4 linked regions of the Homo sapiens genome follow. The protein of the gene in region 1 purifies or fractionates together with the protein of each later gene. This does not show direct contact. Each region holds a gene or a part of one and is shown in the gene's direction. Other genes may lie near its edges.

Region 1 (6,881 bases):
TGAAGTATGCAGGTGGCAGGACCTGCCCACATGGTGGCCTGGAGGGAGGAAAGTACAAGTATGTTCAGCAAGGAAAAGAGATCTGTTTCAGCCAGGTGCACTGTCTCAGCACTGTGCCAGGCAAGCACAGAGATTACATGTAGAATCGGACGTTATGGAAGACTCTTGAACGTCATGATCATTTCAGCTATGGGTGAGAGTTCAGCCTGGTGTAATGGCAATTCCATCAAGGCCCTGGATCACTGGGCAGATCAAAAGATCTAAGACTCAAAGGGTGTCACGCAGAGCAGACTCCAGGCCCCTGCCTGTTGCAATGGGAGCCAGTCCCCAAATAACCCCAGCTCTGAAGTTACAGCTTCATCAAGTGACTCACCCCACCCAAGGCGTCCGTCTCCTTCCAGAGTGTGGGACAGAGTGGGGGCAGCCCAGACTGTGAGTCCAAGGGGCAGAAACAACTCTGATCTTGACTCTTATGAAATACTAATTATAGTACAAAAGCCTATTGAAAGAGTGAAACCCTTCCAGAGAAGCAGATATTTTCCAGTGCAAATAGAGGCTTCTCTCCCACCACTAAACAGACAAAATGCCCAGCACCAAGCTGAGAGAGCCAGCCTGCCATGGCCCGGGGCGTCCTTGACATTGTGCACATCTCTGAGAGAGGGTAAAGTGCCCACAGCCTGATCTGCAGGGATACAGCACTGCTGGGTGGTCTCTGGGCACCAAGACTGACCCTGGGCTCCAGGGTACATTCATTCTTTCTAAACAGTTTTCTGAGCTCTTGCAACATGAGCAGACATGGTGCTGGGCACCGTAGTGAGCACTATGCAAGAGTAATCCCCTCTTTCCACATGACCCATGCAGTTTACAGAGCATCATACCATCCCCTTTGGTCCTTGCCGAAATCTTGAGGAATCATTGGCAAACCATGCACTTTTATTTCTTTTGTTTGTGTGATTGCCTTTTTTTTTTACAGATTTGTTGAAATACAATGACGCACACTAAACTTAGAGTGTGCTACTTGATAAGTTTTGACTAGTGTATAGACTTGTGAAGCCATCACAAAATCAAGATAAGAAGCATAAACTTCACCCCTACAATCTTGAGCCCCTTTGTAACTCTGCCCTCACCCTCTCCATCCTTATCCCCAGGCAATTGCTGATCTGCTTCCTGTCATTCTAGATTAGTTTGCATTTTCTAGAATTTCATATAAATAGAATTATTCTATATGTGTATCCTTTTTATCTAGCTCCTTTGACTCTGCATATTTTCTTATTACAGATGAAAAAATGGAGTCTGGATGAGGTAATGCAAGCAGTCAGTAATCACAGAACTGTAGAGGCAATGCAGGTGTCCTGGCCCTGAGCCCATGCACCAACCGCCACCCCTCATTCATTCATCACTCATTCATTCACTCACTCACCAGAGATGAATTGCGCACATAGGTGGGCTAGCCAAGTGGTGCATAAGACAGACATGTTCCCTGCCTTCATGAGCTTACAACTCTTCATTCATTCATCCATTCACCTACTTAGCAAGCAGGTGCTTAACAAATAATCACTCTACATCCACAGGATACACTGTTTGAAACTGGCACTGCCCCACTACCTCCAACACCACCCTGACCCTCATCAGCCACCCTCCTATATGCAACTTTGAGCTGGACACTGGGGTGACGCAGGTGGGATTGTAGGGGAATCCTGTCCTCCAAGACCAAGCAGGCTGATAGGAAAAGCTCTGCAAAACACAGTCATGCATCCTGAAAACTTACAAGAGAGCTGAAGAGTGAAGGCTGATCCCCTGGAAGCTGGTGCTCCAAACTGAGGACAAAAGTGAGCATCTACACAAGCAGGCTAGCAGCACAGGGAGACAGAGGGCTCTCTCAGACACTGGCCAGGGCAGGCTCCTGGGACAAGGTAGGATCTGAATAGTTCCCAGATGGGCAGGGAGGAATAGATGATGGAGGAAGGGAGGGGGAGTAAAAAGCATATGAGAAGCAAGAGCAAAACAAGGATGAAGGCATGGAGTCAGGACTGGGCTGAGCAGAAGGGGAGAATAGTGAGCTGAGAATTCCTCCTGCAGTTCTTTACGTGAAACATGCTTTCTACAAGCATGTTATATTGGGTTTATGTGTGGAGCAGAGGGGAGGAAAACGTAAAGGGAGATTTTTGTCATTTTACAATTTACAATTACAATTTACAAAGTGCTTTCACTGTTACTACCTTATTTAGTTCTCAGTATAATCTTTGAGATGGGAATTACTATTATTTTTACCCATTTTATAGATTAGAAAGCTGAGTCATAAAATCCAATGATTTGCTTTAAAATATACACTCCTAAGTGGTGGGGCAGAGCCTCACACCAGGTCCTTGTCCTCAAGACGGTTCTCTTTTCTCTTTGTTTTAATGATTAACATTTGCTACTAATGGGGCAGGTGGAGCCGCCTGCACAGCACACTTCTGTAGACCACGGAATATGCTGTTTGACCTTGGCACTGTCTGCCACCTCCTCACCATCAGACCCTCATCAAACACCCTCCTACCTGTCACTTGACCTGGGGGTGGAAGTGACAAAGAGGAACCTAGGAGGCAGGGAGAAGGGAAATGGCCTGGCTCCCAAAAAAGGAAGTTAATTATTTGGCCAAAGAAGCTCTCCCTAATCCCCAAATGCTTTCTGCTGCTGGCCTCCAGAGAAGTTCCTGATAAGGGTCACTCTAGCCTTGGCTAGAACCATGGAAGTGGTTCCCAAACCTTGCCCAAAGCTCACTGATGGTACTCATTCCTCTCAGAAAGCGGGACTGATTCACACCTGGAAGATAATCATCAGGGAGCACCATCTGCGGTCCAAGACCCCAAAGGAGAAAATGGTGCTCCGAAGACATGAGATCAACACAGAGCTGGAGTCCCCCACCCACAGCCATCCAGCTGCCAAGCAGTTCAGGACAAGGCCCCCAAATCATCATGCGAATTACTGTGAAGCTACATTTCTCCAGGGCTTTACCATGTACAGAGCCAGGATTTGAACTCGGGTGGACTGATTCTATTCTCAGATTCCATCCTGCCTCCCAGCCATCCTACTGCTCACCGAGCCTTGCAGAGCAGGCTGGCACCTGGCATGCTTGGCAGTGGGTACATCCTTCCTCATTCCACAACTGAGGAAGCAGCAGCTCCGTGAAATTAGGCCGTTTGCAATGGCCACATACTCCTGAGAGGTAGAATGGGTACTCTACCAGTGCTGACCAACCAGACTTGAGCTCATCATTCAACACATGGCACCTGAACTGAGAAAAGGGGTCATGGGATGGAAAGAGCTCTGGACCCCTGACAATTCTGTGGCCCTAGCCTACAGCTCCCCACAAGGCTCAGCTCCTATATAGGGACTCCATGGTCTAGTGGGAAAGGCCCTGGGCCAGAAGGCCATGGCCAGGTTTAGGTCAGGACTCTGTAGCACTAGTTATGTGACCTTAGGAAGTCACTTTGTCCCTGTGACTTGGTTTCCGCATCTGCAAAACAGAGATAACATCTAACCTCACGTGATTATTGTCATCTAGTGAGATAAGTGAATGTGGAATCACTTTGAAAAGACTACAACACTACACTGCAGGATAGCCTTGTCGCCTGTAAAGGAAACCTCTCCAAGGCTGTGACCACTACAGATTTTGCCTGAGGTTAAGTCCCTTACTTCTCTCCCACTCCCACCCCCAGCCTGCCTGGGTTCAGTGTTCTTAAATTGAAACTGAAGCTAGAATGAACCTGAGGAAAGAAATATTAGTCTATGTGTATAGATGTCCAAGCCCACTGGGCATGATTTCCTAACCCCACCTCCAGCGTGCGCGCGCACACACACACACACACACACACATATACACACACACACACAGACACACACAATTATTTACTTCCTTCCCACCTAAAATGATTTCTCAAAATGAAATTACTTCCTATGGACACCTTGGACTCAGGCCAAAAAAAATTCCAATTGCTGGTAGTTTCTAAAGTGCTTGTTATGTGGGAAAGTTGACAAAAAACAATAGCTATAATATAGTGATCTTTCTTTCCACCAAGCATTCCATACGTGTTATCTCATTTGAGGTACCTTCAAAACAACTCTAGGAGTTATTTCCAGGTGAGGGGTCATTTAGAGGACATTGTCGATTGGCCAACCCAGCGTCTTGTTTTTCCTTCCCTAAAGAATCCCCATTGGGTTCATAGATCTGGTTCCACCCTTCACCACTTGGTCCAGAAGCAGGGGTGGAAGTGATGCAAAATGGTTGAATTCTAGATATATTTTGAAGACATGACCAAAAGGATGTGTGAGGGACTGGCTGTTGGTGTGAAAGAGAGGCATTACGAATGAGATTGGGCATGGAGACGTGTTTGGTGAGACAGAAGGCTTCATGCAAATACAAGATCATGCTTTTTATTATTAAGGAATGTTAACTTCCTCTTTTAGTATGGCCCCTCTGCCATCACATATGGAGACCATCCTTTGCTGGGGAGAATCTCCCCTTCTTTGCCAGGATCCTTTTTTTGCAATTTCTCCTAGTTATTAGTTTATGCAAACTCAGGGGTACAAAATGATTTTAAGGGAAGCATGCTGCCAAAATAACCATGACGTTCCTTCCCAAGCTACAAATAAGTCATTGATTAGCCCATTGGTGTACCTTACCTCAATAAACAAGGGCCAGTTGTATTCTGCCCTGGATCTTGTATAATGAACTTCTTCTTCTCCATAGCTCACAGCAGGCAGTGAAGGCTGAGGATCTTCATGCTTCTTCCCTGGCTCCCCTAGAATGGATGTGTGTGGCTGGAAAGAAATGGAGGTTGCGCTGGTCAATTTTGATAATTCAGATGAAATCCAAGAAGAGCCAGGCTATGCCACAGACTTCGACTCAACCAGCCCAAAAGGCCGGCCTGGGGGCAGCTCCTTCTCCAACGGGAAGATCCTCATCAGCGAAAGCACCAACCATGAGACGGCCTTCTCCAAGCTTCCGGGAGACTATGCTGACCCCCCAGGGCCTGAGCCAGTGGTCCTAAATGAAGGAAACCAGCGGGTGATCATCAACATTGCTGGGCTGAGATTTGAGACCCAGCTCAGAACCCTTAGTCAGTTCCCAGAGACTCTCCTGGGAGACCGGGAAAAAAGGATGCAGTTCTTTGACTCCATGAGAAATGAGTATTTCTTTGATCGGAACCGGCCCAGTTTTGATGGAATCCTATATTATTACCAATCTGGTGGGAAAATTCGGCGCCCAGCCAATGTTCCCATTGATATCTTTGCTGATGAAATCTCCTTCTATGAGCTGGGTAGTGAGGCCATGGACCAGTTCCGGGAGGATGAAGGCTTCATCAAAGACCCTGAAACACTGCTACCCACCAATGACATCCACCGTCAGTTCTGGCTCCTCTTTGAGTACCCTGAAAGTTCCAGCGCTGCCCGTGCTGTGGCCGTGGTCTCGGTGTTGGTTGTGGTCATCTCCATCACCATCTTCTGCCTGGAGACACTGCCAGAGTTCCGGGAGGATAGGGAGCTAAAGGTGGTCAGAGACCCCAATCTCAACATGAGCAAGACAGTCCTCTCCCAGACCATGTTCACCGACCCTTTCTTCATGGTGGAGTCTACCTGCATCGTGTGGTTCACCTTCGAGCTGGTGCTCCGGTTCGTGGTCTGCCCCAGCAAGACTGACTTCTTCAGGAACATCATGAACATCATTGACATCATCTCCATTATCCCCTACTTTGCAACTCTCATCACAGAGCTAGTCCAGGAGACAGAGCCGAGTGCCCAACAGAACATGTCCCTGGCCATCCTGAGGATCATCCGCCTGGTGAGGGTCTTCCGCATCTTCAAGCTCTCGCGCCACTCCAAGGGGCTGCAGATCCTCGGGCAAACACTGAAGGCGTCCATGCGGGAGTTGGGGTTGCTCATCTTCTTTCTCTTCATTGGAGTCATCCTCTTCTCCAGTGCAGTCTACTTTGCTGAGGTGGATGAGCCAGAGTCCCATTTCTCTAGCATTCCTGATGGCTTCTGGTGGGCAGTGGTCACCATGACAACTGTAGGCTATGGGGACATGTGCCCGACCACCCCAGGGGGGAAGATTGTGGGCACTCTGTGTGCCATTGCAGGGGTCCTCACCATTGCCCTCCCTGTGCCTGTCATTGTCTCCAACTTCAATTACTTCTACCACCGGGAGACTGAGAATGAAGAAAAGCAGAACATCCCAGGAGAAATTGAAAGAATCCTCAACAGTGTAGGCTCAAGAATGGGCAGCACAGACTCTCTTAATAAGACCAATGGTGGCTGTTCCACAGAGAAGTCTAGGAAATGATCAGTCCAGGGCTTCTTGGGTCCATCCTGTCTCTCTTCTCTCTTCTCTCTCTCTCTCTCTCGCTTTCTCCCCTCCTCTCTCTCTTCCTTCTGCCTTCCCTTCCTCCCTTCATTCCTTCCTCTTTCCCTCTCCCTTCTCTCATTTCATCTTTCCAAAGATCAAAATGTATCTTTTGTGATCAATAACTATCTTTGACTACAAGCTATTTTAATAAGCCCATACTTCTACTGTATTTTCTAAACTGTTTCTTTTCAATACATTATAGAAAGATTTGGATCTCTTTTCCTATGAAGGGATAGTTCAGGTCCCCAGACCAGAAATACTGGTATCACCCGGGAGGATGAAAATGCAGAATCTAGGCCTACTCTGACCTACTGAATCAGAATCTGCAGTTTAACAAGATCCCAAGTGATTCGTTTGCATATTAAAGATTTAAAAGCACTGGTTTTGGTCTTCCTACGAGGAAGCATATGAAAAGACCAAGGGTTGCTGTGAGCAAAGAGGAAGAGCTCAGAGTTATTCAATTACAATAATAATAATACCTTGTACTTGTGTA
Region 2 (6,909 bases), on another chromosome or scaffold:
CGGCACCCAGCGTTTTCTAGTTAGGAAGATCACATCCCATCTGGCTGGTCCACATGGTTATACTGAACTTAAATCTCTTTTGTGTCTCTATCGTACACATGAAAGCTCACACACACACACACACACACACACACACACACAGTGTGAGAAGCACTCACACTGACTCAGCGTCTGATGGAAACGGTGTACACAGCTGATAAGCACTGAAGGACTTTGCAGAACACCCAGGGCTGGAATAGGCCAGTGTGTGAAACCAGAACGTGAGCCCTGCTCACTTGCCCTTTCCTGCATCTGACTGGAAATGCTACAAACAGAAGGAAATAGTGAGCGAAATTAACAACCTCATGAGGATCTTGCTTGTAAGTTTAATAGCAGCATTCATAATGAAGCAGTGTTTTATTGGGTTAACAGAGGTTAAGTGGCAATATTAGTAAAGTGGTCATTATAGATTTTCTTCTTTGCAGGCAGTGAACAGAACCTTCTGAAAGGATGGATGATTATAACTCCTCAGCATTCACTGTTTCTTAAAACAGGCCTTTCTGAAAGTTTTTTTTCTTTAATAAAAATTACCACTTTTTCCAAGGACCCCTGTTTGAGGCGTGAGTGGAGAGGCTTCATCTTTAAAGAAGCTCTAACAGGGAACTCTGTCGGTCGTTTGAGGCTTGCTGCCAACAAACAATTGAGGTATTTACCAAGGGTTTCCAAGAAATTGCTGCAAATTATATGAAATGTTATACTGGTAACAGACGTTCAATGTATTAGCAACAGAAAAGAAATGTGAAGTGTGTGGGAACAAAGTTGCCATCTGTGAGAAAATGCTCAGTAAGGTAGGTGGCGATGAACTTTAATAATGTGTCATAAAGAGTCACACTCATGAACACAGAAGGGAAGTTAAGTGATCTGGGATTTTTGAACACATTTCTGAATACTGGTCTGGAATCACTATGGAGGACCGTTTAACGTGATCCAGCAGAAAGACTCATTTGGAGACAGAGCCGGACTCCCGGAGCCCCTCCAGGTGGAACTCACTCCACGCAGAGCTCAGACTCGGTCCCACACTCCTGATCCCTGATCCATCACAGCCCACCTCTTGGGCCACTCCTGTGCCATTGGGACTTTCATGGAATAACTACAGTTAAGGGCTTCCTTACAAGTGTTCCTGGTAACAGTTAATACCTCCCCTTCTTTTATGATGAGAAAAATGGTCAATGATTCCCTCAACAGAGAAGGCCAGTAGCACAGTGAAATCAAGAAGCCCGGAACATGAAAAGTCTTTCCTCAGCTCCCTGCAGTGAAATCCCTATAAATGCGAATCACCCTGCCTACTCCTTACCTTTAAAAATTACTTAGGGTGAGGGGGCTTTAGGATGAGGACAGCCTTGGCCTCCAGGGGGCTGTGGGGAAGGACGCATGTGTGTGCATTGGGGGCAGATGTTCCAGACCCTCGTTGTCCTCCCTGGCTCCTTGCTGGTATTGACTAGTGGGGCTGGGCATGGGACAGGCCTTCATACTGGGGGTACCAGTCCTGTCCAGCTGTTTGGGTCTCTGGCTGTCACTGAAGTTCTTGATTCCAGGTATTTGCTACTGGCTGTGAAATCCCCACTTAGGATAGCCTTGTCTCCTGAGCCAGGCCCCTTACTGGGACACTTTTGGATTCTTCCCCAGGAGAACTGCCTCAGCTCAACAATCCAGCTGCTCCTTCCAGATGTGCTAGAGCTTGCCCTCCTGCTCCTAGGCTGCATGCCGGAATTGGTCCCTGCCCCTGGCAGACTTCTACAGGACCTCAGTTTCTCTCTTCTCCTTCCAACCCTCTCTTGGCCTGGCATATCCCTCTTCTCCCAGAGGGAGTTCCCGTATGTCTTACTCTCCTTCTCCAGGGAATTGTAAGCCCTCAGGCTCAGCCTTTACAAAGAAAAGGGTATCCTTTCTACATTACGAAAGACCCCCATTAAGCCTGCAGGTGAGACAGGTGAGACTGTTAACCTAGGAACTGAGGGACAACTAGGAACCAGGATATTGAGGAGGACAAAATATTTGGCATCCTCAGAATATTATTCCCATCAGATATTTATATACTTTTTTTTTTTTTTTCCTTGAGACGGAGTTTCGCTGTTGTCGCCCAGGCTGCAGTGCAATGCAATGGCACGATCTCGGCTCACAGCAACCTCCACCTCCCGGGTTCAAGCGATTCTCCTGCCTCAGCCTCCCGAGTAGCTGGGATTACAGGCATGCACCACCACCCCCGGCTAATTTTGTATTTTTAGTAGAGTCGGGGTTTCTCCATGTTGGTCAGGTTGGTCTCGAACTCCTGACCTCAGGCGATCCGCCCGCCTCAGCCTCCCAGAGTGCTGGGTTTACAGGCGTGAGCCACCGCGCCCGGCCAGCTTTTCACTGGACACTAGTTTCGAAGAAAACTAGGTAAGTCTAAAGCAGGTTAGAAAATACTGAAATCGTTGAATATGCTACAAAATTGAACATCTGAATCTGGCCAGATTCGTACTTCATGTAAATCACTGTGAATGATGGGGCTGCTGAATTTGGGGGATCTGGTGACTCCTCGGCATTTGTGGTTTATGGTCTTAGTGGAAACCTTTTTCGATGGTTTTCGAGCCTGTAATTCATGGTTGTATGTTCTGTATTTTTCCCAAGACCACTGCTGGAATCCTGTATTCACTGCATAATGAGTATTTTATTTTTAGATGTGGATCACCCCTTAGGGAGGGGCTCTGTGGGAAGGTAGGTAATGAACTATTTTTAATATAAATCACAAGTGTCAAAGAAAGTGGTAATATCCAAAGAATAAACAAGAGTGACCACCATTCAGGTGCCGAGAAGGTATCTGAAGCTCCCACAGGCATTTTAAACTGTGTGATAGTATTTCAACCATTTGGTCAACAATGAAGAAAGATCCAAGGATTGCCCCAGGCATGTGTTTATTTGATTCAATGCAGGTAACTTCTCAGGCCCAGGGAAACACTTTGCCCTTCAAAAGTTTCATTAGAAAACCCCAATATACTGGTGACTAAGTAACAAGACTGAAACTCTACACAAACTTTCGTTGTATGGAGACCTCCGCTTTTGCTGCCTTAGCTGAAGTATTGCAGAGGAAATGTATAAAACTTAAAATCCAGAGTAGAGGATCTGGGACCCAAAATCCGTCTTTAGAAATCCACGGCACTTTTACAGACGGACTATATTAAAGTAGGGACAAAGTCCCAGGCTGGGGGTACTAGCCGGCTATCTGCCCACACAGTATGTAAATGAAAGTAGGGTTTACCATCCAGGGCATTAACTTCATTTTCCTTGTCTTCGAGATCCATTAAATGCTAGTACTGTATGAGAAGCGTGGACCTTAAGTATTAAAGATGGCTTTTTCTTCTTCTTCTTCTTATTTAGCGTAGAAACTAGCAACAGGGAACAAGGTAACTGAATTCACGGTCCACTCGCAGGCGCGCACGTCCCCAGGGCTCCGGGACGGCTGTTCCCTGCGTGCGGCCGCGGGACTGCGGACAAAGCTGCAGTGTGGTCGGGAGCGCGGGGCCGGGAGCGCGGGGCCGGCCCGGCGGCAGGAAGGGCGTGGCCGTGGGGTGCAGCGAGGACGGCCCGTGCGGGAGGAACGTGCGCAGCGTGGAGTCTGGGGGCCGAGAAGCCCCCACTGCAAGGCTGGCTCCCGAGATTCGCGCCCGGGCGCCGCGGTGCGGGAAGCGGCCGTCCTCGCGGGGACGCCCTTGCGCCGGGTGCTAGGTGCGGATCACGGGCAGCTCCGGCCCCGCGGGCGCCGGGCGGGGGCCCACGCCCCCTCCGCCCGCCAGCTCCAGTCGCAGACCGCGCGGGCGGGGCGCCCGAGAGGGCTTTTTTTTTTTTTGGTCAAACTTCGGCCACGTGAACCGCCCCTCATTCACTTTTGCGCCAATCGCGCGGCGCGGACGGATCCCGAGAGGGGCCACGGCTCGCCGCCGGCGGGGCCACTTCATAACGCGCCGTGCGTGACGTGAGGGGCTCCTGTTGCAATGGCGAGCTAAGCCGGAGGATGTGCAGCTGCGGCGGCGGCGCCGGCTACGAAGAGGACGGGGACAGGCGCCGTGCGAACCGAGCCCAGCCAGCCGGAGGACGCGGGCAGGGCGGGACGGGAGCCCGGACTCGTCTGCCGCCGCCGTCGTCGCCGTCGTGCCGGCCCCGCGTCCCCGCGCGCGAGCGGGAGGAGCCGCCGCCACCTCGCGCCCGAGCCGCCGCTAGCGCGCGCCGGGCATGGTCCCCTCTTAAAGGCGCAGGCCGCGGCGGCGGGGGCGGGCGTGCGGAACAAAGCGCCGGCGCGGGGCCTGCGGGCGGCTCGGGGGCCGCGATGGGCGCGGCGGGCCCGCGGCGGCGGCGGCGCTGCCCGGGCCGGGCCTCGCGGCGCTAGGGCGGGCTGGCCTCCGCGGGCGGGGGCAGCGGGCTGAGGGCGCGCGGAGCCTGCGGCGGCGGCCCGGCGGGCGGAGCGGCGCGGGCATGGCCGCGCGCGGCCGGCGCGCCTGGCTCAGCGTGCTGCTCGGGCTCGTCCTGGGCTTCGTGCTGGCCTCGCGGCTCGTCCTGCCCCGGGCTTCCGAGCTGAAGCGAGCGGGCCCACGGCGCCGCGCCAGCCCCGAGGGCTGCCGGTCCGGGCAGGCGGCGGCTTCCCAGGCCGGCGGGGCGCGCGGCGATGCGCGCGGGGCGCAGCTCTGGCCGCCCGGCTCGGACCCAGATGGCGGCCCGCGCGACAGGAACTTTCTCTTCGTGGGAGTCATGACCGCCCAGAAATACCTGCAGACTCGGGCCGTGGCCGCCTACAGGTGAGCCCCTGCTCCCCGGGCACCGCCTCCTGCGTCCGGCATCCCGGCGGCCGGCATCCCGGGTGCTCTCCTGGCTCTCGCCTCCGCCCGCTTCCTAGGCCCTTCTTGGGCTTCCGGCGGGATCGGGTTGCCTCTCGGGAGACGCCGGGCCGAGGGAGAAAAGATCAGAGGCGGGATGGTGAGCGCGGCGCTCAGGAACATGGCCTTTGGGGTCAGATGGACTAGTGTGGCCTCGCTGGGTGTACCTCTCACCCTGATGAAGGCACTTTAGCCTTTGCAAATCGAAGCTTCTCGTTAGAAGGGCCCGACAGATCGGGTCTCCCTCATAATGTTGGAAAACTCATAGCACAGTACCTGATAGTGGAGGCAGTTGGGGCTGATACTGGATTCCCTAAAATGTGCACCTTTGTCCTTGCAAAGCTGGAGCCCGTGTACGTTAATCTAGTTCTAGAACCTTTCCACATCATACTCTCACATTTCGCAGTTGGAGGCACTCCTATAAATGAAAGAGAATGCCCGCAGCATATTGGACCACACCAGTCTGTTGAGTACAGAGAGAGAGAACCTTGGGGAAAAGCAGTTCTTGGCCCTTGGTAGATTCAGTGGAAAACTGCATTCTGGTGTTAATTAGTTCAGCTTGGTGGTGTATGCATGTTATCCAGTAACTGGGCTCTAGTTGGCCAAATGAGTCATAAAAGCAGCTGGAATTGTGTTCAGGTTTAACAAAGGGATTAGCCAATGTAGTCTCTAGAAGGGAGATGATTTTGGAATGGCTGGCATGGTTAGAATCAGATTTGTATTGGAGTGAATTTGAAGTTGGAGAGGGTTGTAGACTCGATAAAGGGATTTGATGGAAACCCTATATGTGTGAAGTATAGAGACACTTACTGTATGGATAAAGTTTGGGTCTTATCCAGCCACAGAGCAAACCAATGTGGGGAATGGTTTTAGAGCATCAGTTGTCTGGTAATGAAATTTCAGAGCAGCCAGTGCTGAGCCAGGCTAAGCTGGTTGCTGTTTGTTCTTATAACCAATACCTTTACACTTCAGTTTTTAAATGCAGTCTTGGTCAGATTTTTCAGGCACTAGATGTTGTGAGGGGAAAAGCATATATGGTCTCCCTTGCCTTTAAGGGAGAAAGTAAAGGACTGAGAAAGAAGGTGAAAGTGGTCTTCAGTGACTGCCCCTTGAATGGCTTGATCCCCATTCCTGCACATTTCCATTAGGGTCCTGCTTAAGTCCAGAACCCACATTCCGCCAGGAAGGGTCCTGAGTGGCTTGAAAAGCTTAGAATGCAGGTATTGTAAATACAGACTAATGCAGGCGGGGCGCCGTGGCTCACGCCTGTAATTCTAGCACTTTGGGAGGCCGAGGCGGGCGGATCGCCTGAGGTCAGGAGTTCGACACCAGCCTGACCAATATGGTGAAACCCCGTCTCTACTCAAGAGTACAAAAATTAGCCGGGTGTGGTGGCGTGCACCTGTAGTCCCAGCCACTCAGGAGGCTGAGGCAGGAGAATCGCTTGAACCCAGGAGGCGGAGGTTGCAATGAGCCAAGATCATGCCACTGCACTCCAGCCTGGGCTACAGAGTGAGACTCCATCTCAAAAAAAAAAAAAAAAAAAAATTCTATCTATCGATCGATAGATAGAGATACATAGACTAGTGCAGTGATTTGGGAACCAGCCTATCAGGATCTCTCCCAGATCTACCTTGCATTACCTGAGGTTTTATGGGATTTTTTTTTTTTTTTTGACCAGAGAAACAGCCGTATCGGAAATCGAGGATGAGCCATATAGATTATTTACAGCATGGTTTTGAAAGTAAATCCGCATGACTCTAGTGTGGTGATAGACCATGTGAAATCACAGTTTTGGGGACAGTTAACAAACCAGTTAGTACAAACAGTAAATTAGGTAACTCCCTTATCTCCCCCATGCCCCCTGAACCAAATACATTTTCATGGTTACGGTATCAATATATTCAAATCAGTGGGGGGCCTAATGCACCAGCAATACTCAGAAAATGTAATGCAGGCCGGGCGCGGTGGCTCACGCCTGTCATCCCAGCACTTTGGGAGGCCGAGGCGGGCGGATCATGAG
Region 3 (7,843 bases), on another chromosome or scaffold:
GGAGTTCAAGACCAGCCTGGCCAACATGGCGAAACCCCATCACTACTAAAAATACAAAAATGAGCCAGGCATGGTGGCACGTGCCTGTAATCCCAGCTACTTGAGAGGCGGAGGCAGGAGAATCGCTTGAACCCGGGAGGTGGAAGTTGCAGTGAGCAGAGCTCTCACCACTGCACTGCAGCCTGGGCGACAGAGTGACTCCATCTCAAAAAAAAAAAAAAAAAAAAAAAAATAGAAAAAGATGGTAGTAGATTGTTGGCTATACAGCCTGAAGTTCAGAGTAGAGGTCTGGGCTAGAGGTACACCCTTGGAGGCACTATCATATAGATGGTATTAAAACAGATTGGGCCGGGTGCGGTGGCTCATGTCTGTAATCCCAGCATTTTGGGAGGCTGAGGTGGGAAGATTACTTGAGCCCAACAGTTCAAGACCAGCCTGGGCAACATAGTGAGAACCTGTCTCTACAAAATATAAAAAATTAGCCAGGCATGGGTGCATGTGCCTATAGCTACTCAGGAGGCTGAGGCAGGAGGATTGCTTGAGCCTGGGAGATAGAGGTTGCTGTGAGCTATGATGGTGCCACTGTACTCCAGCCTAGGCGACAGAGTGAGACCAAGTCTCAAAAATAAATAAATAAATAAATAAATAAATAATAAATAAATACAGAAAAAATAGAACTATGAGACTGGATGAGATCGTGAAGGGACTGGGTATAAATGTTGAAAAGAGGTTGGGCGCAGTGGTTCACGCCTGTAATTCCAGCACTTTGGGAGGCCAAGGCGGGCGGATCACGAGGTCAGGAGATCGAGACCATTCTGGCTAACACGGTGAAACCCCGTCTCCACTAAAAATACAAAAAATTAGCCGTGCGTGGTGGCGGGAGCCTGTAGTCCCAGCTACTTGGGAGGCTGAGGCAGGAGAATCGCTTCAACCTGGGAGGCAGAGCTTGCAGTGAGCCGAGATCGTGCCACTGCACTCCAGCCTGGGTGACAGAGCTAGACTCCATCTCAAAAAAAAGGAAAGAAAGAAAGAAAAGAAAGAAAGAAAGAAAGAAAGAAAGAGCTAGGATAGACAACTAATATAAGGAGAGTTTTTTTGTTTGGTTAGTTTTTTGTTTTTTTTTTTTTGAGATGGACTCTTGCTCTGTCGCCTAGGTGGGAGTGCCTGAACCTCCCGAGTAGCTGGAATTACAGGCGTGTACCACCAGGCCCAGCTAATTTTTGTATTTTTAGTAGAGATGGGGTTTCACCATGATGGCCAGGCTGGTCTTGAACTCCTGACCTCAAGTGATCCTCCTGCTTCGGCCTCCCAAAGTGCTGGGATTACAGGTGTGAGCCACCGTGCCCAGCCTTCACTTCCCTTCTTACCTAGCTTAAATGTCTTTTTTAAGTGGGGTCTTGCTCTGTCAACCAGGTTGGAGTGCAGTGGTGCGATCACAGCTCACTGCACCCTCAACCTCCCAGATTCACTCTAAACTGGGCTAGGCAGGCCTGGCAAGGCAGTGGGATGTGGAGGGAGTGGAACACAACATTGAGACCCAGTCAAGAAGAGGACCCAGGGCGGGTGCGGTGGCTCACACCTGTAATCCCAGCACTTTGGGAGGCTGAGGTGGGTGGATCAACTGAGGGCAGCAGTTTGAGACCAGCCTGGAGAACATGGTGAAACCCTGTCTCTGCTAAAAATACAAAAACTAGCCAGGCATGGTGGCAGACACCTGTCATCCCAGCTACTCCAAGGCTGAGGCAGGAGAATCAGTTGAACCTGGGATGCGGAGGGTGCAGTGAGCTGAGATCGCGCCACTGCCCTACAGCCTTGGGCAACAGACGGAGACTCTGTCTAAAAAAAAAAAAAGAGGACCCAGAGAAGACTAAAATTTAGTCAAGGAGAAAGTCTCTGTCAGGCCTGAGCCCAACAGTTCTCTACCTCACTGGATCCCGAGTTCATCCATCCTACCCTCTTTCTACTGTGCCCCTTCTCTCTCTCCCCAACATCTTCCCTTCCCTTTTTTTTTTTTGAGTCAGAGTCTCGCTCTGTCACCCAGGCTGGAGTACAATGGTGTGATCTTGGCTCACTGCAACCTCTGCATCCCAGGTTCAAGTGATTCTCCCACGTCAGCCTCCCGAGTGGCTGGGACTACGGTTGCCTGCCACCACGCCCGGCTAATTTTTGTATTTTTAGTAGAGACAGGGTTTCCCCATTTTGGCCAGGCTGGTCTTGAACTCCTGACCTTAAGTGATCTGCCTGCCTTGGCCTCCCAAAGTGCTGGGATTACAGGCGTGAGCCACAATGCCCAGCCTCCTTCTTTTCCCTCCCTCCCTTCTTTCCTTCCCTCCCTCCCTCCCTTCTTTCCTTCCTTCATTCCTTCCTTCCTTTTCTTTCTTTCTTTTTTTTTTTTTTTATTGAGATAAGGTCTTGCTCTATCACCCAGATGGGTGTGCAGCCATAGGATCATAGCTCACCACAGCCTCCATCCTCCCACCTCAGCCTCCTGAGTAGCTGGGACTACAGGTATGGGCCACCATGCCCAGCTGATTTTAAAAAAAAATTAGAGACAGTGTCTTCTGTGTTGCCCAGGCTGGTCTTGAACTCCTGGCCTCAAATGACCCTTCTGCCTCAGCCTCCCAAAGTACTGGGATTACAGGTGCAAGCTACTACACCTTGCCACAGTCTTTTTTGTTGTTTGAGACAGGGTCTCACTCTGTCACCCAGGCTGGAGTGCACTGGCACTATCATAGCTCACTCAACCTCCTTGGCTCATGGGATCTTCCAGTTTCAGCCTCCTGAGTAGCTGAGACAACAGGCGTGCACCACCATGCCTGGTTAATTTTCTTTTCTTCTTCTTCTTCTTTTTTTTTTTTTTGAGATGGAGTTTTGCTCTTGTTGCCCAGGCTGGAGTGTAATGGCGAGATCTCAGCTCACCACAACCTCCGCCTCCCGTGTTCAAGCTATTCTCCTGCCTCAGCCTCCCAAGTAGCTGGGATTACAGGTGCGTGCCACCACGCCCAACTAATTTTTGTATTTTTAGTAGAGATGGGGTATCACCATGTTGGCCAGGATGGTCACAATCTCCTGACCTCGTGATCCACCCACCTCGGCCTCCCAAAGTGCTGGGATTACAGGCGTGAGCCACCGTGCCTGGCCCAATTTTTAAAAAAAATTTTGTAGAGATGAGGTCCCACTTTATTGCCCAGGCTGGTCTGGAGCTCTTGGGCTCAAGTGATCCTCCTGCCTCAGCCTTCCAAAGTCCTGAGATTACAGGCGTGACCCACTGCACCCAGCTCCTTGCCACCTTCTTGGTGCCAATCAAAATAGTCCTGAATAAAGTCTGACTTACTGTTTTAACAAGAGTCAGATTTTTTTCTTTAATAAGCGCAGTAGAAGAGGTGAACTGAAGAGGAGGGGCTGCAGTCATTGATGAAGACAAGGTCCAAGGCAAAACCACAGACTAACAAGGTAAGGTGGAGGTTGAGATTTATGGAAGCAGAGTTCAGTGACGGACAGGCCAGGGTATGCCAAGGGAGTGCTTATAACTAACTGACCCTGAAAAAGTTTTTTTTTTTTTTTTGAGACAGAGTCTCGTTCTGTTGCCCTGGCTGGAGTGCAGTGGTGCGATCTCAGCTCACTGCAACCTCTGCCTCCCAGGTTCAAGCGATCCTCCTGCCTCAGCCTCCTAAGTAGCTGGGACTGCAGGCGCATGCTTGAGTTCAGGAGTTCCAGAGAGGCCTGGGCAACATGGCGAAACCCGGTCTCTACAAAATATTTAAAAATTAGCCAGGCGTGGTGTGTGCCTGTGTAGTTCCAGGCACTGCGGAGGCTGAGGCAGGAGGATGCTTGAGCCGGAAATGCAGAGGTTGTAGTGACACGAGATCGCGCCACTGCACTCCAGCCTGTGTAATAGTTCCTGGATCAAAAAAAAAAAAAAAAAAAAAAGGAAATGTATCTGAAACTTTCCAAGCTCCAATTTCCTAATCTGAAAAATTGAAATAGCGGTACCTACCTCACAGAGTGGCTAATTTAATGCAGTGCTATTTGCAAGGGATAATTTATCAAACCTTTAGGCGTTGTTCTAAAGTGCCCATTAAATGCTCACTGAACTCACAGCCTTAGGAGGGAGGTTCGAGTTTATGCCCATTTTACATATGAGGACGCGTTGGCAGGTGGTACTGCTGTTCATGGGATCTGTAAAGAGTGAAGAAGGAGTCTCAGCTCTCAGTAGAGTTCATAGGCTCTAGGATTTCTGCTGGAAGTGAGAACACTGCAGGGAGGCAAGAAAGCGGGCATCAGACGGTGCAAAGCGACCCTGGGCCCAGATCGGCGGCCAATGGCTCCCTCCGGTGGCGGAAGCGAAGAGCGCAGCTGGATCGGGCGCGAAGGGAGGATCCCCGCAGCGGGTGAGGGGCGAGGCTGGGACCCGGTGGAGGTTCTAGGGTTTTGAGAGGTTGGAGGACTAGAACTCCAGAAGTCCCTGAACGAAGTGGGCCGGATTTCCCGTGACGCACCTGGCCCAGGTGTTGCAGCCCCGCCCACCTCCCTGCCGCTTTCCGCCATCCTCACACGCCCCCTTTAGTGGGGTGGCTGCTCACCGCACCTCGGAGCTCGGACTGGGGTCCGGCCCCTGCGGCGACGATTGTTTGTACCTAAGTGAAGGAGGCTCCGAGACCCGCGGCCCACGTCCTGCCGGAGACGCTTGTCTGCAGGGCTGCATTGCATCCCCGGGCGCACGTGGAGCTGGAGCAGCGCAGGCTGGGGAAGAGCAGAGAGGGTCGGGCTTCTCCGGGCGCGCCATGGGGCGGGGCCGAGGACGGGGACCAATAGCGCGCGCGTGCTGGTGGGGGTGGGGACAGGCTCCAGGCCTGGCATCCCGGTAGCCGCAGCTGTCTTTTCCGGCCCCCGTGCACTCTCCGCCCGAGCGGAGCCCCCCGGCTCGCGGGGATCGCCCCCGAGCGCTGCGTCCTGCGGGTGGGTGAGTGAGCGCCTCGCGGCCCCCGAGCTGTGGGGTGCACCTGGCCGGGGAGAAGGATATCTTGGCTCCCTTGCACCCCAACGGGCGCAAAGGGGCAGGAGCCCGGATTGGGGGAGGAGGAGGACCCGGGGACCTTGTGTCGCTCGGTGGGAGCCGGTCTGTGTTTCTGTTTCGCTAGGGTGTGTTTGGGTTGGTAGAGTTTGTGGGGAGGGGTGCCTCGTGTGGATGGGAGGAATCGGGGAGGCTAAGGCGAGGAGGAGGGGGTTTGAGATGGGTTGAGGGAGAGGATTGACGGAGGGTGGGGTTTTGAAAGAGTTGGAAGTTTCTTGTTACCTGTGGGTGCGGTGATTGCATTGGGGGGCTTGGTAGGGGCAGCTCAGGACACCGAAGGAGAGGATGGGGAAGGCTCTCCTGCCCGTAACTTACTTCCCTTTTGGGAGATTTGGTTCCTCTTGCATTGCTAGTTAAGGAAGGAGAGGCTGGAGAAGCCTGTGCCGTCAGAGAACCTTTGCCCCTTTCCAGAACCGGTGCCATCCCTAGTCTCAGGAACATAAGGGAAGGGGTGGCCCCCAGGAGCCGGGAGGGGCCTTGAAACCCCTGCTGACAGGTTTGGGGTACCACTTTTTTGTGGGGCAGTGGCTGGTACCATTTGCAGCCCACGGACTTTTTTGAGTTGCCGGTAAGCAGGGTGTGGGTGCGTTCCTGTTTCCTTGCGGTTGTCTCTTTTTTTTTTTTTATTGACACAGGGTCTCGCTCTGTCACCCAGGCTGGAGTGCAGTGGCATGATCTCGGCTCGCTGCAGCCCTACGCCTCCAGGACTCAAGCGATTCTCGTGTCTCAGCCTCCCAAGTAGCTGTGATTACAGGCATGCACCTTCACGCTTGGCTAATTTTTTTTTTTTTCTTGTGAGACGGAGTCTCACTCTGTCACCCAGGCTGGAGTGCAGTGGTGTGATGTCGGCTCACTGCAACCTCTGCCTCCTGGGTTCAAGGGATTCTCCTGCCTCAGCCTCCCAAGTAGCTGGGACTACAGGCATGAGCCACCATGCCCAGCTACTTTTTGTATTTTTAGTAGAGACGGGGTTTCACCATGTTGACCAGGGTGGTCTCGAACTCCTGACCTCAGGTGATCCACCTGCCTCGTCCTCCCAAAGTGCTGGGATTACAGGCATGAACCACCGAGCCTGGCCAATTTTTGTATTTTTAGTAGAGAGCAGCTCTGTCTTTTGGGGAGGCTTCAGGGTGTTTGATTAGTGGTCTTTGGGGGTGGGCGAGCTCTGTGGGGGAGCTTTTGATGCAACATAATCTCCTTTGCAGGTCACCTAACCCATTTGTGGCTTCCTCTACCTGTGCTCAGCCATGGCCAGCGAGAGCTCACCTCTGCTGGCCTACCGGCTCCTGGGGGAGGAGGGGGTTGCCCTCCCTGCCAATGGGGCCGGGGGTCCTGGAGGGGCGTCTGCCCGGAAGCTGTCCACCTTCCTGGGTGTGGTGGTGCCCACTGTCCTGTCCATGTTCAGCATAGTTGTTTTTCTGAGGATTGGTGAGTGGGTCCTGGGGCGGGTGTGGACTGACTATAGTATGGGAGGACATGATGGGGAGGGGTGGAGATGGGACTGGGATAAGATTAGGAAGGGGACCCAAGAGAAGCGGTTGGCTGAAGGGTTTGGGGAGGGGCTCTCTGTGGGCTTGCATTTAGCTCCACCCTGGAGCTCTGCAGAACCAGGGGGTGGGGGATATGGGGTGTGAGTCCCCTGTGACCTGATTTGCTGCTCCTGCCTCAGGGTTCGTGGTGGGTCATGCTGGGCTACTGCAGGCCCTGGCCATGCTGCTGGTTGCCTACTTCATCCTGGCACTCACCGTCCTCTCTGTCTGTGCCATCGCCACCAATGGAGCCGTGCAGGGGGGCGGAGCCTACTGTATCCTCCAACATCGATGGACTGGGGTCTGGCCTGTTCTGCCTGCTAGGGAGGGTGTGGAAGGGGCCATTACCTTTGTTGGCTCAGGGGCAAGACAAGTGTTTTTTTCATTCTTAAAATTTTTTTAGGCTGGGTGCGGTGGCTCACATCTGTAATCCCAGCACTTTGGGAGGCTGAGGTGGGTGGATCACTTGAGGCCAGGAGTTCAAGACCAGCCTGGCCAACATAGTGAAACCCCGACTCCACTAAAATTACAAAAATTAGCTGGGCATGATGGCACCCGCCTGTGATTCCAGCTACTCGGGAGGCTGAGGCACGAGAATCGCTTGAACCTGGGAGGTGGAGGTTGCAGCGTGCCAAGATCGCATCACTGCACTCCAACCTGGGCAACAGAGCAAGACTCTGACTCCCAGGCTGCAGTGCAGTGGCGCCATCATAGCTCACTGTGATCTCGACTTCCTGGGCTCAAGTGATCCTCCTATCTCAGCCTCCTGAGTAGCCAGCACTATAGGCATGTACCACCACCCCTGTTTAATTTTTAAATATTTGTAGAGATGGAATCTTGCTATGTTTCCCAGGCTGGTCTTGAATTCCTGGCCTCAAGTGATCCTCCTGCCTCAGCCTCCCAAAATGCTAGGATTACAGGCGTCAGCCACTGTGCCTGGCCTGGCAGGGCAAGTTTTAATAAATGTGCAGCAGGCAGGCTGGTATAGTGAAGGAGATCAACATTGCCCTGCACGTTGATGCCAATTTCTAGTCCAACAATCTCATCTGTTAGGCAGTGATTGTTTTACAGATGCAGAAACTGGCACTCAGAGGATATGAGTGACTTGGGCAAAGCCACATGGCTGGGGCCTGGCTGCACTTGGGTTCAGTGCTTGGAGCTATGGCAACTTCCTCACGTCCATTTCAGTCTTTTCCCTTAATGCTCACCCCTGCTTCCACTTTCAGTCATGATCAGCCGC
Region 4 (7,481 bases), about 100 Mb from region 1:
AGGTGCGGGTTTGCCAGCACGCGGGTGCTCTGCACGTCTGGGTTGGAGGGTTTTCAGCCATTGCCCACAAGCATATTGCAAAGCAAGTCCTGAAGCACATTCAATCCAAACCAACCCTCACTCGGAGGTTCACCACGGAAAACAGGGCCTGGCATGGAAGGAGCCCTTGGTGTCCAGGAAACTGGCTCCGGGTCTCTGCCCCGTGGCCACCGGGTGGCGCTGCTGCAGAGCACTTGGCACCGGCTGCGCTTCCTCAGAGACTGCCCTGAGCAGGCGACTGGTGGGGGCCCGGGGGCATGGGACATTGGTGGTTCTTTCTGACCTGCACCTGCTGGGGTTGATGCCAACTGTGGACTCTCTCTCTTCTCTCCCTTTCTCCTTTTTCTCTTTTCTCCATTGCTGTCCGAAGTACTCGGTATGGGAGTCCCAAAAGACAGCTCCAGTTTTACAGGTAATGAGTCTTCATTCTCCCTAAAACCCAGCGAGCCGAAGGCCAGGGAGCGGGTGGGAGGACTGCACCCTTGCCGAGCAGGGTGTGCTGGTGTATTCTCTGAAGCCAAAGCCCCCGAGACCCCCAGGCTCTGCTCATCACCCTCTGTGCCTACCCACAGGATGCTGTGCAATGTCCTGATGGAAAATGTGAAGTCAGGTTAATTGTATGTGTTGGTCTGCCAGAAGTTTGCTTTGATTTGAGCAAATGGGCTTTTGATGACTGCCAAGCTCTCAGCCAAATCTACCGTTAAAGCTTCACTCATCAGGCAGTGAGGGAGATGTCTTCCTGTGGTCACCAGCTTGCCCTGCTTCCATTATCAGAGTACAGGACGTGGCGAGCCCATCCGTTCCCCCTTTGCCTGTGGGTTTGACCTGATCTGGAACTCACAGAGCTCCTCAGGCTCATTGAAGGTTAATGCCTGCTTGGGGGTGTGCAGTACTGATACGACGTGGATCAGTGACATCTTTCTGATATGTTTTTCTGTTGGTGAATTAACAAACCGGGCACCTGGCGAGAGACTGTGCCCCAGCAGGATGTGACATCAAGATGCCAGGCTTAGGGCCCTGCAGGGTGCTCTTGGGGAGACCCGTTCCTCTCTCTGGGCTGCCTCTCCCTCACCTGTAAGGCAGGGGATGCATGTTCTTGGTGCAGCCTCCAACCCTAGGAAGTAAAATGTCAGGGCTGCCTGGAGCCCATGGGCAGCAGCCTCCCCATGCCTTGGGACTGTTTGGGGAATTGGCACGGCTTCTGGCAGCAGGTCCCTGGTATGCATTGCTGCATCTTGGCGGTCAGGCCGGGAGGTCTCTCTATTCGGACCCGGACATCTGGTAACAGTGCTTTGGGGATCGTTGCCAATGTGCCAGGCAGTGGTCATGGAGGTGGCAATGTATTTCCATGTAGCTTTTCTCTCCCCGCGCCCCCACTCCCCACCCCCCCCCCCGTTTGCCAGCCATAGCACCTCTGATGGGGACCGTGGACCTAGATGCTCAGAGTGATCTGTGCCACGCCTTCAGTGCCTCCTCGGAGGTCCTGCTCCTTACAGGGAGCTCTGAAGACATGGCCAACTCTTAGATCCTACTGAAATTTTGGTAGATAAGATTTTGCTTAAGATAGTTAAATCTGAACTCCGGCTTGCAAATGCTTTCCCTGGATGAAATGTTTGTATTGTGATGTATGTACACATGGTATAACAGATCCTAACAAACATATGCCGCTCATCCCAGGGGATTTCATCAGTGAAACAAAACATGTACCTGAACTGCATCCTCAGAGAGCCGGGAGCAGCCTCAGTCCTCAGAAGGGAAGGGGTGAGGTCTGATGAGCAGGCAGGAAAATCCCAGGTGCAGACCTGCCAGCTCAAAAGGGCTGCCCACAGGTACAGACCATCCAGCTCCAAGGGCCTGCCCCTAGGAGGGGCCAAGTAAATTATCCAGTGACCAAGTGAGAGCCTTCCAGCCCACTCAAGGCCCTCAAAACCCCACAGGCTCAACATGTTGTCCCCCCCGCCGGGATCCCTGTGCTTAAGAACCTTCATTTCCAGGTGGCCTTCCTGGCCCCAAGGGAAGCTCTGAAGCTTACCCTCTAGGCTCTCAGCCCCAATTCTGGTGCCCACAGGCTCTGGCCATCCTACCCGTTGGATCTCCAGGGGGTCACTTGGGTGTCTCTTGTGGGGGCTCTGGAGATGACCTCTAAGGGCTAGGGTCTTTGTTTGTTAACAGGCTGGGGGCCACTCCTAGTAGGGCACCCTCATCACACCAAGCATACCACTAAACATGGCTATTGGATGGTTCTTTCAGTTACTTAGGCCTGGCCCTCTCACAGGGCAGAGGCGTTCAAGGCATGTGCCCTGCCCCCATGCAGCTCCCAGGCAAGGAATTGGCATAGGACACTGTGCCAATCAGCTGTCCACCAAGTGCTGCATAACAAACAACTCCAAAACTCAGTGCCACGCAGCAATCAGCATCTCTTCCTTGCTCCCGTGTCTGCGGGTTGACCAGGCAGCTCGTCTAAGCTGGCTTGGCTGGGTTTGTCTCCAAGCTGCAAGTTGGATCCCCATGTCCTCCATCTTCCCATGCTTAACTGGGGCCTACCCCAGGCATGTCCTTCCCATGGCAAAAGTACCAGAGGAAAAGCAGAAACATGCAGGGTCTCTTACGGCCTATGGTTGGGGTCAGAGCGCTGTCACCTCTGCTCACGTGCTTTTGGCCAAAGTAAGTCTCAGGAACCAGCCCACAGTCAAGGGGCTGGAAATATATTGCCCCCACCAGTGGGAGGAGCTATAAAGTCACATGGCAAAGGGCATGGGTACAGAGAGGGGTGAAGGATTGGGAGCAATACTTCCATGTACCCCAGGTCTCAAATAGCCCTGATGATCTCCAGAAGGCAGAGCACGTCACAGGAGAAGCCCAAAGAGCATTTGGGGTCCAAGGAAGGAGGGGCCACAGCCAGCTGAGAGCCAAGAAGACTTCACGGAGAAGGCAGCAGGGGCTTGGATCTGGTCCTTGAAGGCTGGGCAGGATTCAACGCAGAGGCTGGGAAGCATATTCCAGTAGATACAACAGCCTGAGCCACAGCTCAGAGGTGTGCACAGAGAACAGGAAGTGACAGTTACCCAGCCTGGGCCATCAGGGACATGATGGAGAATAAAGAGAGGCTGGCTGTAGAGGTGGATGTTGGTGGGGGGCCTCGAATGCCTAGCGATGGGGCACAGATGCACTCAGAGGGCACTGGGGAGCCATCTATGGTGTTTGAGCAGGGCAGGGGTCAGAGATCTGCTCTAGGAAGGAAGCCTGGTAGCAGGGAGTAAGACAGGGAAGAGAGAGGCTAATGCAAGGAGACCAGACAGTGCCCAGGAAAGGTGCAGGACGGCTGAGCTCCAGGAACTGCACAGAGAGAGAATGAAGGGGTGCAGGGCCTGAAAAAAGGACGTCAGAAGCCACGTCCACAGGGCTTGGCCACTGATGGGCAGGTGCTGAGACAGAAAGGGACAGAGAGGAGCAGTGGACCCAGGGAAGGAGAGGGCCTCATTCGGAGCATGTTAGGCTGCAGCTACCACCCAGTAGTGAGGCGCAGGCCCCCCGACCAGGGCGACATGTGGGGATCTGACAGAGTGGGCTTGGGCCTTTGGGGACAAACCATTTCAATTGCCAAGGCCTTCGCAGCTAGTCACCCGCAGCCAGGCACCTCCAGACTCTACGTGCTCTCCCAGCCTCCCACTTCATTTACCTTCCACACTGCGACTGGGGCACTGATTTCCTGTCCCCCACCTTCCCCCATGGCAGCTACCACTGTTTGCTCATTCATCATGGGGGGACGGTTCTGCCTCCATTCAAAATCCCACATTCACTGGCGCGCTTTCTCAGCCGGAAGATGATGTCACGCTGGGACTTTGCTGGCATCCTGTGACACGCAGTGACCCTGGGGGTCATGACCCTGGGGTTGGGGCTCAGCACTTAGCCTCATCCCAGAGCTCAGCCTTGTTTGGCCTAGTCTCAAAGCATTTCCCAAACCCCAGGTCAGGACATGTGCCGTGGAGAAGGGCTCCTGTGTCCCTGCCTGGAGTGAGTGGCAGTGTGGAGTCCAAATAGCAGGTTCTGGGGCCTTCCTGCCATTTATAGCTACCGGTAGTATCAGATATACCCATCTCGGGTGTATCCCCAGAGGACAGGAGGAGCATGCGCGTGTGCTGAGCAGAGGCCTCTCCAGACCCCCTTGGCTGTGGGTGGTGGCCCCATACGACGGGGCCCCCAGCTCCCCTGCTGCAGACACAGTTCAGAGTTGAGTGGTATGCGGAAGCCACAGGCTCTGTGTCCCGCACTCAGATACCAAAGAGCAAGGCCTGCCCCTTTCGACCTGTGGGTCCAAAGGTTTGTGTTTCTGGCACGCGGGGATGGTGGAGGCAGCAAGGGTAGGCCTGAGGGACGGGCAGGACCTCCCCCTCACCTTGGGCTGCACCCCAACCCCACGCACCGGGAGTCAGCCTTGCCAGGTTGCAGCACGGAACTGCACTTCCCGAGCTTTTAGGGGAAGAGGCACTCGTGAATAATTCAGCCTCTTTCACTGAGATGAAAACGCCCTAATAGAACTAATGGACTCGCTGCCTCAAAACTCGACTCTGGTGGGACTCATCTCATTCACCAATTGCTTCTGACGTCCTGCAGTGACACTCCCTAATGAAAAAGCCGCTGTGCCAGATCCTTAGAGTGTCTGGTGATCCCTAATAAACCAGACTGTGGCCTTTTTAACGAGCAGACGCCCCCACGAAGGCAGGTGAGTCCTCCCTTCAGCCGCTACCTTCCTAGTGGAGATGCCGCTTGGGGGCACGCATCCGCGGGAATGAAAAATAACAGAGGAGACCATATTTTGGGGTGGTTTTGTCTGATCCGGAATTAGACCCTCCGTGTTTTTGCAAAGCAGAAGACCTTAAAAAAGAGCCAGCCTGAGGTAAACTTGGAATGACCGTGATGGATGGGGTGGTGGGCGGCAGGTTTCAGCCGGGCAGCACCTCTCGCTTGAGTCTGCTCACAGCCCAGACCTGCCCAAGGCTGACTGTTTTCCCATCTGCCGGAGACACGGGCGTCTAGCTCGTACCTCGCTGTGTTCACCATTGATTAAGATTCAGCATTTTCCAGTTTTGCCCAGAGCGCTGTCAGGGAGGTTTGGTCTTGTCTGAAATGTCTGTGCAGGAAGCACGTGCTGAGGGAGCCAGGGGCTGCTTGTTTGGGCCTCAGTTTGCTGATTGTCCTTGAGCGAAAATCATTCTGTGTTTGCACTGAAGCAATGCCGTGTCTTGTAGAGCCGCACCCCGGAATGGTAGCAGCTCCCCTTCCATTTCCGCTTTGGAGAACTCTGGCTGGGCTCTCTGCTCTCTGGACAGGTGTCACCATTCAGAAGAGATGCTCAGGGTTCCTTCTCAATCTCAGGTTGTATGCTTTGTTGGCTTTCAGTAAACAGAACAATTCAGAAATTCCAGGTAGAGGAGTCTGGGGTGAGGTAGTGATTCCTACTGACTTAATGAGGTTAACATCTTCCTTGCATTTTTCCATGTCACGGTGTTAATTCACGTGAATTCCCCTGGGCCCCTGATCTACAGGAATAGATTTGCACCAGGCAGGCCCAGCCCAGGAAAGAACTTGTGGGTTCCACGTAATTAGCAATGGCTATTGAGGAGGGGCTCGTTTTTCTTGGTACCAGGGTGGTGAGGGAGTGTCAGGGCTCAGAGACCCTCACTCTGGAAAGCGGCCGGGATTTGGGATATTTTGAATTGGAAGTCAGGGGTCACTGTGCTCTTGAGCACAGGAGAAGTGGGGACCCTGAGGCAGGAGCCCGGCAGTGGGGCCACTCTCTCCTCCCTGCAGTGTCTTACCGGGGGGCCCTTCGTCCAAGGACCTGACGCTGCTAGAGTCTCGGCAAAAGCCCAGAATAGAGCCCCAGTGTGAGGGAGTCCAGAGGTGTCCTCTGTCCCCAGGCACCGCTGGTAACGGGCAGAGCCTCTTTGCCTTCTGCCTGTACCTATCCTTCTTCCCCTGGGGCAGCCCTCCCAGAGTCATGAGCCTTCAGGACCACAGGGAGCCCCCGCTGTACAGAGTCCTGGCATGGGAGTCCCCCCCACACAAGAGAGGGTGACCTGCAAAGAGCTGCTGGGTCTGAGGTAGGAAGCCAGCCCCGCCCCCACCAACAGCTGCCTGGCACTGCCAGGAAATGCCCAGGTATAGCCCTGGTTGGCCTTTTGGAGCCTGGGCCTTGGTTACTGTTCTACAAATATCTGAGCCCCTCCTCTGTGCACGGGACACTCCCGTGGGCACTGGTCAGGGGGCAGTGGCAGCAGGCAGAAGAGTCCTTGCCCTCCTGGACCCAACCTTCAGGGGAGTCCAGCGGCCATGGGCTCCTCATGGCACCAGCCCTGCTCCTCACCCCACCACCCCATGCCAAAGGCTGCCATTTCTGTGCCCGCAAGTTCCCTGGCCCAAGCCCTGCCCTGGCACCATGGGGACAAGCTCGTAGCAAGAGGCTCTGGGCTCCCTCCGTGCCGCAGGGCTCCCACCTGCAGGTCTGCTCCCAGGGCTGCAACATGAGCTCTAAGGAAAGATTGCAAGCGGGCCCCCACAGGGAGGGACGCCCTCTAAATCCTGGCCACAAAACCCATTCTGTCCTGCCCTCTCTCCCCTCTCCCACTCACATCCCCAAACTCAGCCTTCCACCATCTTGTTGTGAAGGGGGCGATTATTCACATCTGTGTTCTCTTCCCTTAAGCATTTTCTAGGGAGATTTGGTGTCTGTGTGGCTCACTCCTCTCACTCAAACCTGTGGTCACAAGTTCCTTCCCGCCCTGCCTGCTGGCCCCTGGTGGTGGATTTTTCTTTCCACAGCATTTATCATAATTGGTGTCTTATCCCACGCCCCCCAACAGACTGTCTTCTGGCTGCGTCACCAACTCCCACCCAGTTGTCCAAAGCCTCATCTCATGCAGCCCACAGCAGCCTGGTACAACAGGCCTCTGCCCAGCCTACCTCACAGATGTGGAGGCTGAGGCCGGGAGCGGTCAAGGTGCCTGCCTGGGCCACACCATGAGCAGGTGACAAGCAGAGCTGCCCCTGTCCAGAAGCTGGGCACTCAGCCACCCCGTCCTCCAGCCCCGGGGCCTTGGCTATATTTCTAGAGCCAAACCAGACCCGGATTGCTTTTTGTGAGTAATGTCTTGAAAGCTAATGGCTATTGATCTCAGCCTGGTCGGGCCAGGCAGGGAACTTGCGTGTCTGAGGCTGGTCCTGCCTTTCAGAAAGAGCCCTGGGGCTACAGCCTGCCCAGCTGGCCTTCTTTCTAAACACAGACCTCAGGGAAGTGAGGGTTGGCCCCCATTTGCCCCACACCGGACTGGCAGCTAGCCACATGGCCACCTCAGAAGCAGCTGCCTGCCACGCGCATGGAGGGAAGGGAGTGGCCGGCCAGTAGGCAGGGAAGGGAAGCTGGTGCTGCTGTCTGTGGGTGC

What was found.
Region 2: the proteins of KCNA10 (region 1) and CHSY1 purify together in Homo sapiens (affinity purification with mass spectrometry; 2 studies listed by BioGRID and IntAct, with this or other methods). This does not show direct contact.
Region 3: the proteins of KCNA10 (region 1) and SLC12A9 purify together in Homo sapiens (affinity purification with mass spectrometry; 2 studies listed by BioGRID and IntAct, with this or other methods). This does not show direct contact.
Region 4: the proteins of KCNA10 (region 1) and KCNAB2 purify together in Homo sapiens (affinity purification with mass spectrometry; 2 studies listed by BioGRID and IntAct, with this or other methods). This does not show direct contact.

The regions. Positions count from the first base shown.
Region 1 is NC_000001.11:110,516,696-110,523,576, reverse strand, and holds KCNA10 (potassium voltage-gated channel subfamily A member 10), read left to right. Parts: upstream 1-4,401; 5' UTR 4,402-4,789; coding exon 4,790-6,325; 3' UTR 6,326-6,360; downstream 6,361-6,881. UniProt on the Homo sapiens protein: Voltage-gated potassium ion channel that mediates K(+) permeability of excitable membranes.
Region 2 is NC_000015.10:101,249,036-101,255,944, reverse strand, and holds the start of CHSY1 (chondroitin sulfate synthase 1), read left to right. Parts: upstream 1-3,896; 5' UTR 3,897-4,488; coding exon 4,489-4,808; intron 4,809-6,909. UniProt on the Homo sapiens protein: Has both beta-1,3-glucuronic acid and beta-1,4-N-acetylgalactosamine transferase activity. Transfers glucuronic acid (GlcUA) from UDP-GlcUA and N-acetylgalactosamine (GalNAc) from UDP-GalNAc to the non-reducing end of the elongating chondroitin polymer.
Region 3 is NC_000007.14:100,847,877-100,855,719, forward strand, and holds the start of SLC12A9 (solute carrier family 12 member 9), read left to right. Parts: upstream 1-4,836; 5' UTR 4,837-4,959; exon of another isoform or gene 4,960-5,142; intron 5,143-6,279; 5' UTR 6,280-6,321; coding exon 6,322-6,502; intron 6,503-6,743; coding exon 6,744-6,878; intron 6,879-7,829; coding exon 7,830-7,843. UniProt on the Homo sapiens protein: May be an inhibitor of SLC12A1. Seems to correspond to a subunit of a multimeric transport system and thus, additional subunits may be required for its function. May play a role in lysosomal ion flux and osmoregulation.
Region 4 is NC_000001.11:6,041,422-6,048,902, forward strand, and holds the start of KCNAB2 (voltage-gated potassium channel subunit beta-2), read left to right. Parts: upstream 1-4,466; 5' UTR 4,467-4,762; intron 4,763-7,481.